Homo sapiens: one gene and its partner. The protein of the gene in region 1 interacts with the protein of each later gene in a pairwise test. Each region holds a gene or a part of one and is shown in the gene's direction. Other genes may lie near its edges.

Region 1 (4,033 bases):
AACAAGGACAGCACTGTGCACACTTAGGAAATTAGAGTAATTTATTTCATCCCATGCACCAGCTATCTAAAAGTCTTTATTGAAATTTAGGGCTGGGTGTGATGGCTCACACCTGTAACCCCAGCACTTAGGGAGGTCAAGGTGGGAGGATCACCTGAGGCCAGGAGTTCAAGACAAGCCTGGGCAACACGATGAAACTCCTTCTCTACAAAAAATACAAAAATTAGCTGGGCATGATGGCATGTCCCTGTAGTCCCAGCTACTTGGGAGGCTGAGGTGGAGGATGGCTTGATCCCAAGAGGCTGAGGTTGCAGTGAGCCAAGATCACACCACTGCTGTCAAGCCCAAATGACAGACCAAGACCCTGTCTCCAAAGGAAAAAAAAGAAGAGTTGGGAGTGGAACTGTACATGGTTAATAACCCTGGACTTTGCTCTTTGTGGAAGCATTGGCCTTCAGGAATTTGGTGAGACTCCCAAATGTATCAGTGCAGTTAGTCTCCCTAAGGGATGGTTGTTAGGTGCTTCCTATGCCATTTGATGCTGAGGAAGACTAATTCTGTGTTTTTGTTTTGTTTTTTGTTTTTCTTCTGAGACGGAGTTTCGCTCTTGTTGCCCAGGCTGGAATGCAGTGGCACGATTTCAGGTCAATGGCACAATCTCGGCTCAGTGCAACCTCTGCCTCCTGGGTTCAAGCGATTTTCTTGCCTCAGCCTCCCTAGTAGCTGGAATTACAGGCACCTGCCACCACGCCCAGCTAATTTTTGTATTTTTAATAGAGATGGGGTTTCTCCATGTTGACCAGGCTGGTCTCGAACTCCTGACCTCAGGTGATCTGCCCACCTCAGCCTCCCAATGTGCTGGGATTACAGGTGTGAGCCACCGCACCCGGCCTAATTCTGTGTTTTCAAGATGTTCCTGCTAACTGGATTTTACTGATAATTATTTGGTTATGATTCTCACTACTTTTATTTATTTGTGAGTTATCTTGCCATAAAACCTTCTCATATATGTGCCAACTCTGCATCTCCTGTGATGACAGATTCTCCAAAGTAGTGAATCCAATTAATTTGAATACATATAATTTGGAGGAATAAAAGGTGTTTCTTCAGTGTGCACTAAGCCTTTTCTCAAGCTTATCGAGGACTTAATTTTCACTTGAAAGCACACCTCTTCCAAAAGAATGATCACCTGCAGACTTTTCTTTGAAGAAGCCCATGAATAGAAGTTAAATAACCAATTAATTTCTAGGAAAACATTTCATTTCCTAGGATAGTCCGTGGCTTGTCAGAAGTGGCGACATACAAGCTCATATCCAGAAATTTTGTTTCTGTTATGATAGGAAAGGGATTTTAAAAAAAAACTATTTTATTTTTTTAAGTTCCAGCATACATGTGCAGAATGTGCAGGTTTGTTACATAGATAAACGTGCCATGGTGGTTTGCTGCAGCTATCAACCCATCACCTAAGTATTAAGTCCAGCATGTATTAGCTCTTTTCCTTAATGCTCTTCTCCCGCCCTGCCCTCCCTCTTTTTTTTCTTAAAGAGGTGGAGTCTCATTATGTAAGCCCAGCTGGTCTTGAAATCCTGGGCTCCAGCTGTCCTCTGCCCTCACCTCAACCTCCTGAGTAGCTGGGATTACAGGTGCACACCACTGTGCCCATTTGGGAAAGGGAATTTAACCACTTTTCTCTTACTTTCATTCTGGTGCTTTTATTGAACACTTGGTCTCTGATGATACTTTAACTAGGGTTTCATGCTAGAAAAAAATCTAACTCTGGTGAGCTGTTGCAGGAGTTTGGGTTATGAAGAATGGAAACTAGGAGGGGGCCACATTAGAAATACACAATAGCCAGGCGTGGTAGCTCACGCCTGAAATCCCAGCACTTTGGGAAGCTGAGGCAGGCAGATCACTTGAGCTCAGGAGTTCAAGACCAGCCTGGGCAACATGGTGAGACCCCCATCTCTGCTAAAAATACAAAAATAATTAGGTGGGTATGGTGGCGTACGCCTGTGGTCCCAGCTACTCAGGAGGCTGAGGTGGGAGGATGGCTTGAACCCAGGAGGCAGAGGTTGCAGTGAGCCGAGATTGTGCCACTGCACTCCAACCTGGGCAACAGAATGAGACCCTATCTCAAAAAGAAGAAGAAGAAAAAAGAAAAAAAAACAAGAAACTCTTGCTTCTACTCTTTTATCTTCAAATCAACATGTATGGTATCATTTGCAAGTAACATGTACTAACCCATATTTCTTTCAACCAGGCAGTGATAACCTTTTAGTAATCTTGAAAAGAAAATGGTGGAAGTACATCCTGCTGGGACTAGCAGATGTGGAAGCTAATTATGTGATCGTCAGAGCCTACCAGTACACAACTCTAACCAGTGTCCAGGTAAGAGGGAGCCCTCTGACCACTTTGGATTTTATAGCTTCAAAAGAAGAACACGAAGTCATATGTGTTGACCTAATTTTATTGAAAATCTATTCACTTGAAGAAAACCTAAACACAGGTGGATGCTGTTTTCTAGTAGAGCATATGCTCTAATGAGTAATGTTTCCTAGAATTAGTGAAAATGTATACAACTTAAGCTGCCCCCAAACTGCTATGGCAGATTAGAACAGTTCCTACCAAATAAGCATAAATATTTAGTTGGCAGTTGATGCTGTGGTGTTGACACGTGTTCTGTTTTATATGCTGCTCAAACATGGCATATGAAAGTATACCTTTGTTCTATAGGAAAGTTGAAGCTTTGCAAGCATAGTAGATATTCATGACAAAGAAACCATTGGAAGAAACCCAGTAGACATTTTTGGGAGAGGTGGTAGCCAGAGTTAAAACTCCCATCCCTATTTCTTTGTTAGGTTTATTCTTGCTGCATTGAAAGAAAAATATTCCTACATTGCAGAGGTTTTCAACTTTGTAAAGTTGAAGACAACTGATTTCAGTTGTCTTAATGTTAGCAAACTATGGGATGTTTCCTAACACTGACTCACCATTACTGACTACAAAATGTTTTATAAGTGGAGGTGAAAGTGAGATAGACTCAAATGCCAGGTTTAGATGTCACAGTTTGTTTATAACTTTTTTTTCATTTTTTTAAATAATAAAAAAAAGTGTGTATCAGATGTGGGATTTGAAGTTTATAACTTTTTGATATGTCCCTTTCTCACTATACAAAATACAGAGATGTTCTTACTTGACTCCAAATTTTAGGGACTGGAAAAATTGAAATTAGACTTATTTCGCATAGAAAATATAAGGATTGATGAGAACTCAGTATTTTTCCAGTGTGAACCTACATTAAATGTTACTACCATTATATTAACTACTTTCTTTTCTGTAACATTGTGCTAAGCATTGTTCTCAGGAAACCTCTTGGATTTTGACCAGTATGGGTTAAAAAGCTGAGATAGGAAATGATTTATTAAGACAGACACTATAGGAGGCACAAAAAGAACCTAAAGTTTCGTAAAAATTAAACCCAGCAGTTACCTAGAGAATGAAGTTTATCACTAATAGGAGTAAGTGTACTTTTAGCGTTGGTTAATGAAGTATACATAAGTATGTAGAAAATGGTATTTTCTTGTCACATCTACTCTCATAATCTCACCTACATTTTAATTACTTGATTACAATTCCCAGGAACTTTGATCTCTAACTAATGATAAAAAGTTTTGAATTGGTGCAAGGCCTAAACACAGTTAAACAGAACACTTACAGTTGGATAGTTGCGACTGAAGTTCATGCCTTCTTTCAATTTCAAAGAAATTGAAAACAATTTCTTTCACGCTAGCCTCTTAGAAAAACCTAAGCATTTGGTTGCCAAAAGTCATGCACTTACGGTCCTAGCAAAGAATATATTATAAAAAAGGCATCTAACAAGGTAATGTTTTCTCCAGCAGCAGCGACAGCTGTGATAGGAATGATTCAAGCTGGTTCTCCAACTGAGTAAATCTCTGGCCTGGGTAGTCCAAAAGGATGGAAATCTGGATTAGGTGGTCTTTGAACCTTCTTCTTAAGGATTCCTTAGAAGGTT
Region 2 (2,392 bases), on another chromosome or scaffold:
GATAACTGTTAGAGTAAAGTGGCTTTTTAAAAGAAATTTTTGAGACTGGGTCTCACCTTGTTGCCCAGGCTGGAGTGTAGTTGTCTGGTCATGACTCACTGCAGTTTCGACCACCCAGGCTCAATCGATCCTCCCGCCTCTGCCTCTGGAGCAGCTGGGACAAGGCACACACCCCCATGCCTGGCTAATTAAAAAAATTGTTTTTTGTAGAAACGAGGTTTTGCCATATTGCCCAGGTTGGTCTCAAACTTCTGGGCTCAAGAGATCTGCCCACCTTGGCCTCCCAAAGTGCTGGGATTACAGACGTTAGCCACACTGTGCCTGGGGGCCAGCATTTTCTAATACTTGTCATATTCTATAGTTTGTGCAAATTTAAGATTGTTTTTTTTTCTGCTCGTCAGTCAAATCAGTTCTTGGATTAAAAACTCATTCTTATTAGAACAGAATCATGTTGGTAACTTGGTCTGCAACAGGTTTTGATGGCATCATGTGGACTTTATTCATCTTAACTCATTTAAATTTTCTACCACATTCCCTTAAGCTAATGCAAAAGTACCAACAACTTAATCTTTTTTTTTTTTTTTTTTTTTTTTTTTTGAGACGGAGTCTTGCTCTGTCGCCCAGGCTGGAGTGCAGTGGCGTGATCTCGGCTCATTGCAAGCCCCGCCTCCCGGGTTCACACCATTCTCCTGCCTCAGCCTCCCGAGTAGCTGGGACTACAGGCATCTGCTACCACGCCCAGCTAATTTTCTGTATTTTTAGTAGAGATGGGGTTTCACTGTGTTAGCCAGGATGGTCTCTATCTCCTGACCTCATGATCCACTCGCCTCAGCCTCCCAAAATGCTGGGATTATAGGCGTGAGCCGCCACGCCCGGCCCAACAACTTAATCTTTTATTAGCTTTGCTTAAGAGGGCCAATTAAATCAAAGCCCTTTAGTTCCCTTTAACAGGGACTGGAGTTATGATGCATGTGTTACGACTTTTGGCCCACTGTCCATGCAACTCTAAGTGCAGGTTGATTTGCTTTCCAGAAATCCCAAAGGGGCTGCTCTTGGATCACCGAAGAGCCTTACCTATATCAAATCAAAAAGACATTCTGGGTCAGATTAGACTATGCTCCTGGCCCTACAGATTGCACATAAACTATCATAAATACAGCTTTTTCAGGGAACTAGTTCTAAAACTCTTACCTGCTGAGAATAAGTCTTAACACTAAGATGACTGTATTATATCAATTTATTATTAGAATCAGACTTATACCTAGCACAATTAACTATTGTGTGGGCAAAGAACATTTAAAGGGCATAGTAGAGGTAAGGAGAGACACATACTCAGCTAGAGATAAAAATACTAAGTTGCACTGATTACTTAAAATACTAGTCACACCATAAAAGTGCCCTGTAGTTTCAAAAACACGTAAGCAATGAAATGTTAGCCATTATGTGTTAAACTACTTAATCTCATTTCTGTGATGTGAATATTTTTAACCCCCTTTTTGTAGATGAGGGAACTGACAAGTGACTTGTCCAAGGCCATATAGCTGTGAGAAAACCCATGCATTCTCTTTTCAGAGTTCATGCTATCACTCAACTTTAAAGTAGGCCAAGATTAATGTTGGTAAGGGTTTGTAATCTGTAAGAATGCTAAAAACGTAAGTATATATATCATTTTAGATTTGACATTTTGTATCTTGCCAGTTTTTAGGAGAACTTTTCATTTTGTTAAGTATGCATGAATATAGTTGAGTATATGAGTAACTGGTTCTTATGCTGCTGTTTTGTATTTTTACCAGCAGGAAGATTGCAAAAGTTGATGTATGTAAATCTTGAAATATTTCTAAGTTTTATGTATAACAAAATATGTATTTTAATAAACTTCTTTTGATATTTTATTTGCACTGTCTTAATGAGACTTCCATACTCAGGAGTGGTAGCTATGGGATTTTCACATGGGTTCTGGGTACTTCTAATTCTTTGAAACTTAGTACTGCAGGCTGGGTGCAGTGGCTCATGCCTATAGTCCAGCACTTTGGGAGGCTGAGGCAGGCAGATCACTTGAGGCCAGGAGTTTGAGACCAGCTTGGCCAACATGGCAAAACCCTGTCTACCAAAAACACAAAAATTAGCTGGGCACTGTGGTGTGCACCTGTAGTCCCAGCTACTCATGTGGCTGAGGCACTTGAATCGCTTGAACCCGTGAGGCAGGGTTGCAGTGAGCCAAGATCTTGCCACAGCACTCCACCCTGGGTGATGCAGTGAGACTTTCAAAAAAAAAAAAAAAATCTGAGCTCTACTGCATTGGTTATTAAAATATAATAAAAGTATTAAATTCTATTTTCGCACCAAATGAAAACACTTGATTATCATTATAGCACTTTAAACTTACTTTTCC

The links.
Region 2: the proteins of SLC35F2 (region 1) and TRIM59 interact in a two-hybrid assay, tested with the Homo sapiens proteins (one large-scale study listed by BioGRID).

The regions. Positions count from the first base shown.
Region 1 is NC_000011.10:107,810,022-107,814,054, reverse strand, and holds part of SLC35F2 (solute carrier family 35 member F2), read left to right. Parts: intron 1-2,260; coding exon 2,261-2,388; intron 2,389-4,033.
Region 2 is NC_000003.12:160,435,003-160,437,394, reverse strand, and holds the end of TRIM59 (tripartite motif-containing protein 59), read left to right. Parts: 3' UTR 1-1,892; downstream 1,893-2,392. UniProt on the Homo sapiens protein: E3 ubiquitin ligase involved in different processes such as development and immune response. Serves as a negative regulator for innate immune signaling pathways by suppressing RLR-induced activation of IRF3/7 and NF-kappa-B via interaction with adapter ECSIT.